Linked DNA regions of Homo sapiens. The protein of the gene in region 2 purifies or fractionates together with the protein of the main gene of each other region. This does not show direct contact. Each region holds a gene or a part of one and is shown on either strand. Other genes may lie near its edges.

The links.
Region 1: the proteins of FGF10 (region 2) and ITIH2 purify together in Homo sapiens (affinity purification with mass spectrometry; 3 studies listed by BioGRID and IntAct, with this or other methods). This does not show direct contact.

The regions. Positions count from the first base shown.
Region 1 is NC_000010.11:7,698,524-7,706,315, reverse strand, and holds the start of ITIH2 (inter-alpha-trypsin inhibitor heavy chain H2 precursor), read right to left. Parts: upstream 3,001-7,792; 5' UTR 2,882-3,000; coding exon 2,798-2,881; intron 1,209-2,797; coding exon 1,134-1,208; intron 1-1,133. UniProt on the Homo sapiens protein: May act as a carrier of hyaluronan in serum or as a binding protein between hyaluronan and other matrix protein, including those on cell surfaces in tissues to regulate the localization, synthesis and degradation of hyaluronan which are essential to cells undergoing biological processes.
Region 2 is NC_000005.10:44,299,747-44,302,420, forward strand, and holds the end of FGF10 (fibroblast growth factor 10 precursor), read right to left. Parts: 3' UTR 501-2,674; downstream 1-500. UniProt on the Homo sapiens protein: Plays an important role in the regulation of embryonic development, cell proliferation and cell differentiation. Required for normal branching morphogenesis. May play a role in wound healing.

The sequences.
Region 1 (7,792 bases), on a different chromosome or scaffold from region 2:
GGATATAAGCTCAGCTTGCCTGATTCGGGGTGAACTGAGGTTCTGTGCTGTGTGACATGGTGAGGTCAATGGTTGACCTCTTCTTGTAGACTTCTTGAATGCAATGCTCAATGACAAATTTTTCTCTCTTGTGGCTAAATAAATTGTGACATGAAGTCTTGCTTATTGGATTTTAATATTATTAGTCTACAAAAAAAAATCCTGGATTTTCAGAAAGTAAAAAATTCACACCCATACAAAATAAGACATTGATCAGCTTAGGGTTGCTGCTTCCGTAAATACCTCCTCTCTCAGCATGTGGGCTCCGTGGGGAAGAAGCCAAGCCCTTCCTGGTGTTCTGGAAAACTCACCCCCTTAATTAGAGGGTTTTGTCTATACTGCTGCTGGTGGCCGCCAGGATTGCAACTTCCAATGTGGCCAATTCTCCTTCTCAGGTGCCCTCAGAGTGACCAGAGGAAGGAGATTGTGAGGCTGCAAGGGGGAGTGTCTGTCATCGCTAAAATAAGAAAAGTCTTCCTAACAGGAAATCCTTCCGGCAAGGCAGGAAATAATTTCGGAATCTTAAGTTTTGAAGAAAACACATAGCCATGTATTCTTTTTTTTTTTTTTTTTTTTAAATGGAGTGGGGACAGCGTCTCCCTCTGTTGCCCAGGCTGGTGCAATCATAGCTCACTGCAGCCTCGAACTCTTGGGTTCAAGTGATCCTCCATCTCAGCTTCTCAAATAGCTGGGATTACAGGTGCATGCCAGCTAATATATATATTAGCTGGGTGGCAGAGGTAGAGCCTCACTATGTTACCCAGGCTGATCTGGAACTCCTGGCCTCAAGTGATCCTCCCTCCTTGGCCTCTGAAAATGCTGTGATTATAAGTGGGAGCCACTGTGCTGAGTCGTGTACTCTTTAAGGGACTAAATTGAGCATTATGGTGTGAAGGCTGCTGAGCAGTTGTGTGAGTTTCTCTTTTTATTTCACCTGGGTGATCTCTTCCACCAAGGTGTAAGAAGTCTGGACTCTTCTGTGCTAAAAAACAAACTCTTAAGAAAATCTAGCAGAAGGCATCTTAACACTTGTCTTCTTCTGCCATAATCTCTTTCACTTTTTTTCCCCCTTTTGGGAGTAAACCTTACTATACCTGATATCTCCGGTTCTCTGCCACCAATTGAAATTTGCCTGGGGCCAGTTCCACAAGATCTTCATAGTCTACAAACTTAAAAAAAATTAGGATTTTAACTTTTTTTTTTTTAATTATACTGTAAGTTCTGGGGTACATGTGCACAACGTGCAGATTTGTTACATAGGTATACATGTGCCATGTTGGTTTGCTACACCCATTAACTCATCATTTACGTCAGGTATTTCTCCTAATGCTATCCCTCCCCTAGCCCCCCACCCCCTGACAGGCCCCAGTGTGTGATGTTCCCCTTCCTGTGTCCATGTGTTCTCGTTGTTCGACTCCCACTTATGAGTGAGAACATGCGGTGTTGGGTTTTCCCTTCTTGTGTTACTTTGCTGAGAATGATGATTTCCAAAAGATCTAGAGCCAAAGAGATAGCTGTTGGTATTCATTATTTTATATTCTTTCCTCTACCTCTGGGCAATCACAATTTTGTATAAAATGATTTCTTTAGTATATTTCTATTTGCTGGTTACGTCTCAGAGGTGTCCAAATGGAGGGTAACAACACCTTCGCATTTGTTGGACATGGGAATTCATTTTTGAGTTTGCCAGCAGGTGGTAAGACAGAGATCAAAACAACCCAGTGATTAGGTGGGTGTCTGGGGAAGTATCTGGGTAGACCCTGGAGGCATTTGCAGTGTCTGACTGGACAGACATGAACCATACATCTCCCCAAGTTAAAAATGTAGGTATTTTCTAAAAGGAAATGCCAGTTAGAAATGACTGAAAAAGCACAAACACATTTGGATGTCTTGGCTTCAATTTGAGATTTCTAACACACTCTGGTGGCTTTTAAGTGTTGGAAAATATGATAGTTTCAAAGCAGACAGAGTGATATTTTCCCTTTGTAAATATGCCGTCATATTCTCTGGCATTTTTATAGGTAATCCACTCTGCAAGTATTATAAGCCTTTGCATTTGCTGGGATGTTCCCATAACATGCTTCGCTTTTCTGGCATAAAAATAGCTCTTGTATGACTTTCAGAAACAGACTTTCAGTCCAAGACTTTCCTTACATTGGAGATGGCTAAGGGACAAAAGTGGAGACCTGTACTCCATGGGAATTATTCTTGTACTTTTCCACCCTGCCTGCTATCTTCCGCTTTAATAGGAATACTTAAAGTGCTCTTATTACAAATATCACTGTTCACTTAGATATGAAAAACAGTGTGCTTTGATAATGACTTTTCTTATACTCTTAGTAAAAGAGTGATAATATTTCTTCATCATCATAACAGCTAGTAATTATTAAGCACTTACTAGTCCAGGCGCTCTGCTAGAAGAGTTTACACTGTGTCATTTAATTCTCAAAGCAAACCATTGGGTTAGGTCTATTCTTACCCCCAATTTTTTAGGTGAGGAGTGAGCAGCTCTGCTCCATAAATGCTACGCTCTGATGCCTGCCCATTGATCTTGACTTAATTTTCATGCAAAACCTGTTAATGCTTTAAAAGGTAAATATACATTCCAGTAATTATAACAGTAAACACTTGCACTCAGATGAATTTTATCTTAAGTTTCCATTACACACAGAATAAGGCCATTGAATAGCGATTCCAATAGATGATTTACTGAGCTCATGAACAAGCCAACAGCAAGGAGTGATCTGTAAGTACTTACTTCAGAAAGTCCATTTATGGGGATTTCGAAGCCTGATACTTCAGAAAGAAAGAAGCAGATGAAAAAGCACGTGAGTCTTTTCATTTTGCTGGACAGTTTTGCCAAGCTCCCCAAAGCAGATGGTCTGGGGAGGATATCACTTCTTCCTACTGAACCAAGTTCAAAGGAACAGCAGAGGAGTACAGTTCGCTTTAAGAAAGAAGAAAAAAGAAGAAAAAACTCTCTAACTTTGTTCAAAATTGGGACAAATATTTGTTCTGGAGCTCAAACTTGAGCTGTGTGGGTGGATCGAACACCCAGAGGTTATTCAAACAGCAAAGTCAGAAGCAGTTGCTTACTGTGAGGACAAGTCAGGGGCAGATGGATGTGCTTGAATGTGCTTGTGTGCTTTTATTTTATTTTTATTTTTTATTTTTTGGCTTTTGCTGATTTCTATTGATCTTAAAATCAGAGAGACCTACAGATAATTGTCATCCTTTCTAAAGGACCAAGTGCAGAACTATTCCAAGAAACAAAATCCTTTGATCTAAATGAAAGCAGGAAAAATTTAGAAAAAGTGGGAGAAGACACAGAAGGGTTTTTCTGAGCAAAGAATTCATTGTGCATGTTTTCCCCTATCTCTTTGATGACTGTCTACCTGTTACCTATAAAGACCCAGGCAAGTGGCTGTGCAGGATACTAGGGCAGATCTTCAGTGAGAATGCTTCGTGAATGTCTTTGATTAAGGTAACAGTGTCTGTCCTGCTGCCCCTATCAGCCGGGCTCAGGTCAGTGGCAAATCAATACTCCCCAGTCTCAGAATTGGAGTGCAGTGGTGAGATCAAAGCTCATTGCAGCCTCAACTTCCCCCGGCTCAAGCAATCTGCCCACCTCAGCCTCCAGAGTAGCTGGACTACAGGTGTGCACTACACTGCCTGGCTATTTTTTGTAGAGATGGGATTTCATCATGTTGCTCATCCTGGTCTTGAACACCTGGGCTCAAGCTATCTGCTTGCCTCAGCCTCCGAAACTGCTGGGATTCCAGATGTGAGCCCCCATGCCTAGCCTCCATCCTGGTCAGATTCTATTTTTCTTGCAACAAACAGGAAATGTAACTTCTTGGATGCAACACTGAAATAGGAAGCTCCAGCTGTGGGCAGAATTACAATACAAGGGAGGTTGTCTTATCCTCAGGACCAAGCACCCCAGGCCAACTTCTGGGATCCTGGAGCTCCTTGCTACATTTAAAGCCCAATTCACAGGGCATGCAACAGAGAGTTTTCTGCATTTTCCTCCCTAGTTTCCCCTCAGTCTTCGAAATTGCACAGCCGTGTGTCTGCTGGAGAAACATAACTTCTGAAATAATGGAAGGGAGAAAACAGATTCTCCCCTCCCTTGCCTAGGTTGGACTAGTTGAGCGCCCACCTTGGCCAGTGAGTGCCTCAGTGGACCCCTCATGGAAAAATCCTGCCACAGCTTTGCATTCTTGACTGAGATACTGTTTCTGGAGAATTAAGACCCAATGGCAGCTGGGCGCGGTGGCTCACACTTGTAATCCCAGCACTTTGGGAGACTGAGGCGGGTGGATGACCTGAGGTCAGGAGTTTGAGACCAGCCTGGCCAACATAGTGCAACCCCGTCTCTACTAAAAATACAAAAATTAGCCAGGTGTGGTGGCATGCGCCTGTAATCCCAGCTACTTGGGAGGCTGAGGCATGAGAATTGCTTGAACTGGGGAGGCGGAGGTTAGAGTGAGCTGAGATCACGCCACTGCATTCCACCTGGGCAACAGGGCAAGACTTGGTCTCAAAAGAAAAAAATAAATAAATAATAAAAAACCCAATGGCATGTTCTCCCAAAAACAGCAGTGACTTTCAAAATCATACCTCCTTCCATTGATCATTTCCTTTCTGATTATTTTAATCTGATATTCAGAATTATCTCAGAATAAACCAAACCAAAAGCAGGCTGGACTTTTTTCCATGCTGATACTCTGTCTTCAGATCCCAAAGTCCTTTTTTTTTTTTTTTTTTGAGAGGGAGCGTCACTCTGTGGCTCAGACTCAAGCGCAATGGCATGATCTTGGCTTACTGCAACCTCCACCTCCCAGGTTCACGCGATTCCCCTGCCTGAACCTCCCAAGTAGCTGGAATTACGGGCGTGCACCACCACAACTAACTTTGTATTATTTTTTTTAAAGTAAAGATGGGGTTTCACCATATTGGTCAGGCTGGTCTCAAACTCCTGACCTCGAGTAATCCACCTGCCTCAGCCTCCCAAAGTGTTGGGATTATAGGCGTGAGCCACTGTGCTCAGCCTGATCCCAAATTCTTGAAAACAAAACAAAACAAAACAACATTTGCTCTCTCTCTCAATGTTCAGAAGCACGACCGCGTAGGCTGTGTATTCAGGCTACTGAGTCTTGAACCTGAGACCCTTTCCCCTTGCACTCCCCACCCCACTGCCAACCCCTCCCATCATGCCTGGGCAGCTGTGACGTGGTGAATTGAATATATCCACTGATTTCTAGGATGGAAATCACTACCATAAATGCCACAAGAATATTCACTTTCACGTATGTGAAAATCAGTAGGAAATCTACAAGAAAAAAAATCACAATATTTCATAATGTTTGAACAAAGAGATAACATTTAGTACTCATTGGGAACTCTGGGAAATATCAACAAACTTGAGATTCATCACTGAGTGTAAGTCATTGTGGTTTAGCTGACAGTATAACAATAGCTGCCTCACATTTATAGCATTCAGCTCCAGCCCTGTCATTGTGAAAGAGCATGTTTGTAAAAGTCCAAAGTCAAAGCTGGATGAATTCACCAGAAAAATAGCTATATTTGACCCTGACCTGCTTGTTTGGTGGGTCAGGTTGCACATAACATGGAGCAGGTCTGTTTTCTACACATAGTTGAGCTGTGATGGCTTCCTCTGATTGTGAAGACATTTTGTTACATCTTCTTCAAGGATTGTCTGTTTGAATTTCCAAAGATGATATTTGATTACTCTGCTACATTTTTTTGTCCTCTGTAATGCAGAGGTGTGTTTTTTTTGGTTCTGTTTTTTTTTTTTTTTTTAGATGGAGTCTCTCTCTTGCCCAGGCTGGAGTGCAGTGGCACAATCTTGGCTCACTGCAAGCTCCGCCTCCCGGGTTCACGCCATTCTCCTGCCTCAGCTTCCCGAGCAGCTGGGACTACAGGTGCCTGCCACCACGCCTGAATAATTTTTTGTATTTTTAGTAGAGACGGGGTTTCACCATGTTAGCCAGGATGGTTTCGATCTCCTGACCTCGTGGTCCACCCGCCTCAGCCTCCCAAAGTGCTGGGATTACAGGCTTGAGCCACCGCGCCCAGCCTGTTTTAGTTTTTTAATGGAGACAGGGTCTCACTCTATCACCCAGGCTGGAGTGCAGTGATGCAATCATGGCTTACTGCAGCCTCAACCTCCTGGGCTCAAGCAATCCTCCCATCTCAGCCTCCTGAGTAGCTGAAACTACAGGTGCACACCACCACACCCAGCTGATTTTTGTGTGAGCGTATATTTTGTAGATGTGAGGTTTCACCATGTTGCCCAGGCTGGTCTTGAACTCCTGGACTCAAGTAATCCACCCATGTTGGCCTCCCAAAGTGTTGGGATTACATGTGAGCCACTGTGCCTGGCCAGGTGTGGGTTTGTATCATTTGAGGCCAGAACATAAAGATGTTTCAAAAGAAAAATATTTGAAACTGAATAGCAGTATCACAAGCCAAAAATGGGAAGTTAGAGAGCATGGAACGGATTCTCTCATTGGTTCTTAAGCCATGGAAACGTGGCTTTGCTGTTGAGCCATTTCAGTTCTTTCCTATTCTGTGTTCCTTACCTCTGAAGTTCAAATTCAAATCCATTGCCAGAGTAGAGAAATCGAGAGTAGAGTAGACATGTGACCAGCCACGATAGGTCAATTCCAGTGTAGCAGCTTTTGCTGTTCCTCCCAGGGTGTCTGGGTGTTTTCTGGCGAGGAAGGGGTCTCATCTGGAAGTGGTCTCACGATCACACTAAGATCTGGTGCTGGTATTTCAGGTACAGGCTGGGAAGCACCTTCATATGAGTAATTGTGGCTCCCTCCAAGGTGTAAACAGGGCGAAGAGTGTGTTTGGATATCTGAGCCACCAGGGATGTTAGAGGTTATCTAGCTGGATCCTCTAATTTAAAAGATGATGAAAGTGAGGCTCAGAGTGGTTAAGTCATGTGGCCAAGAGAGGGGAAAAGATGTAGCAGAGTAATTGAATGTCATCTTTGGAAATTCAAATAGACAATCCTTGAAGAAGCTATAAGAAAATATCTTTACAATCAGAAGGAAGGTATCACAGCTCAAATACGTATAGAAAACAGACTTTCTCCACATTAAGTACCATGCCAGGCTGTGGCTAGAGAAGTGGAGTAGGGTCAAGATACAGGGCCGAGGTTGGCGGTAACGATGGAAAATGGACTGAACAGTGTGAGTCGGCAGCGTCGTCATCAACCCCTTCCCTGGCCTGCCTCTTTGACTAACGAGCTGGGTTCATGACTTTTGGCAAATCTCTGTATGCCTCAACGTCCTCATCTGAAAAATGGGAATAACAAATAATACTCACCTATGAGTATGTATGAAGGACTTAGAGCAGTTCCTGGAACACATTAGGTGCTAACTAAGTGCTAGTTACTAGTAGTAGTGTTAAAACAGGTCAGCACAGTGGCTCACACCTGTAATCCCAACACTTTGGGAGGTCAAGTCGGGAGGATCACTTGAGGCCAGGAATTTGAGACCTGGGCAATATAGCAAGACCTGGTCTCTACATATTTATTTTTATTTTTTTAGATGGAGTCTTGCTCTGTTGCCTAGGCTAGAGTGCAGTGGTGCCATGTCAGCTCACTGCAGCCTCTGCCTCATGGGTTCAAGCAATTCTCCTCGCCTCAGCCTCCCGAGTACCTGAGATTACAGGTGCACTCTGCCATGCCCAGCTAATTTTTGTATTTTTAGTAGAG
Region 2 (2,674 bases):
TGGGGTCACTGCCTAAGTTGTATGAAGGCATATGTTCAATTTACAGTTGTAATGAGGAACATGGGGTGTTTTGATCCTTCATTTGTTGTGCTGATCTCTAGAGGATGCAATTGCCTGTATTAAACAATGAACATGGACTCTTTTGTGGCGGATAATAAAAATGTGTAAGATAATACGTGCCACGTGCATGTATGTTTGGCATGTGGCTTTTCTCTGTTTATGGAATTGTTGCCCTTTGTTGCTATCATGGAACAGGCTCATGGAAATGTTCATTATTAGCCACTTAGGAACAAGACCAATTCGTTTGACCTCATTAGTTTGATCATGATTATTCCATTTTAACTAATACATGGTATTTATGAAGGTGTTTTCCAAAGATTATTCACTTGCAAGGGCATTTTGTGTTTTATTTTACTATTCTGCAAAAAGACAAATAGATAAAGTTTAGGTGATAAAGTTTTCTTTTGTCACATGTTGAATGTAGTAAAAGACAAAGCAGGTTTTTTTCTGTTTTTTTTTTATTTTACACTTAAACAATGAATGACATCAGGGTTTCAGATTTTTTCTATATGTCGATACACTTGAAAATACTAGCACATACTCTTGGGATAAACTGAAAGAAACATTTATAACATCATATTGTGATACAGGTTGAAGTAGGAGGACCAGCTTTTTATTCAGTGAAAACTTGCATTCATCCCAATATAAAGTTTGCAAAACCACAGTGAGCCTAGCTATATCCAGGGCCCTACTCTTGGCTTAAAACAAAACAATGCAAATGTAATCTTTCAATGGTAAAGAACATATGAAAGAGAATGATCTTAAAACCTCTCTAACTTGGACAAACAAACAGGTGAAGAATAATTGGAATTGGTGGGAAATATAGGAATAGAAAATGTTTTTATGTCACAGCTTCATTTAATAAGATGTAGCAAACAACCATTTGGTTTTTGCACCTGCAGCACTGCTGTCTCCTTGGTGTACTCTTCTTCACTAGTTGCGGTTGTGTGGGCTGCCAAAATCTTCACCTTGCCTCTCTGTGGTCATGTCACTGAAGATTGGTCAATCACAATTCCCAAATCTCTTATACTGATTGGTCTAGAGGTTGGTATGTTATCCAAACCTGGCCAATAAGAGTTATATCTAGGATGTTTACCTTTTTGGATCTTGTAGTAAAGGAGTTTGGGGTTTTGGGTTTTGGAGTAGGAAAGAAGTAGACTAGAAGCAATCTGGCCTAACCAAATAAAACCAATGAAGGGTAACAGAAAATGAATGTCTGAGAAGAAGCAGATCTTCGTTACTTCATTTCTAAGTACTCATAGAACTCAGAGTTCCTTTTTCTCCTGAGCATCCTTCAAAGATATTCCTCTTCCTTTTTATTTTTTTTTCAGTTTAAGTTGGAAAAGTCCTGCTTCATGAAATAAACAAGAACTCTTAATCAATATGGTATCTGTTTGCATGTATATGTCCTACTTCTAATGTACTAGACATCTTCTCTTAAATATTTTAAGCTACATATATAACTTTATTTAGACAAAGTTTGGACCAGCTGAACCCTTCAGTAATATGAAAAAGGTAAATTTTACTTCACTGAATAATCACAAACCTTGAATTGGCAGCATCCAAATTATTAGAACTGTGCAGCATTAATGCTGATCTATGTAAATTGGGTTCATAAACTTGCTTGGGCCCTGGAAGCAACTTGCATTATTATGTATTTTTTCTCTCTAATTTTCAAATCAAATTCATTGGTCATTCATCCCCTTGAAATCAGATTCTGCAGCCACCTGGCTTTCCTCCAAAAGTCTTCCATTGTTTCATAAGCCATCCTCGTTTCCAATTCATTTTTCTTTATCCACTGTGTAAATTAGGTGGACCTGAATATTTAGAAAAGATTGAAAGCATTTGGTTGTTATTAGAGTAAAGATAGCTAACTCACACATGTGAAACATTAGAGAAAACTTACAAATGTTTGAGTAATTTTTTTTTCTGTTGTTGTTGTTTGGGGCTGTGGGGCATTTAACCACATCCTGCCATGCACACACTTGAGCTTCTCTCTTTATTACCAGGTAGAGTTTCTGACTAATAAAACAAACAAGGACAATATTTTAATTTTCTTTTCCCAACATTTTTATTGTTTTTATTTAAATGTAACATACTATACACTGTTCAGCCTTTTGCGAGTTAGGAGGAGGGAGTGATTCTATATCTTTATGAGGAGTATTCTCAGAACCAAAACTCAAATGGACACATATTTGTGGCTGATGCACTTTAACTTTGTGGGCCTGGGACCATACTCCTACAGAGGCAGATCTCTCAATAGCTCCAATTTTTTTTTTTTTCAAATCTACAACATTCAGGGCTGAAACTGCTTTTTTTTTTCTTCAGTAGTTGCAAAAGGGACCAGAATTCTATTTCCATTTCAAGCAAATATGCCACTTTTAAATGCAAGAGAATGTCATTACTCCTTACCAAACAATCTTTCTTTCTCTCTCCTTCCTTCCCTCCCTTCTTTCCTTCCTTCCTTCTTTCCTTGCTTCCTTCCTTCCTTCCTTCCTTCCTTCCTTCCTTCCTTCCTTCCTTCCTGTCTTTCTGTCTTTTCTCTCTTTCTTTTCTCTTTTCTCTCTTTCCTTTCTTTCTGGCTCTTTTTCACCCAGGCTGGAGTGCAATGGCA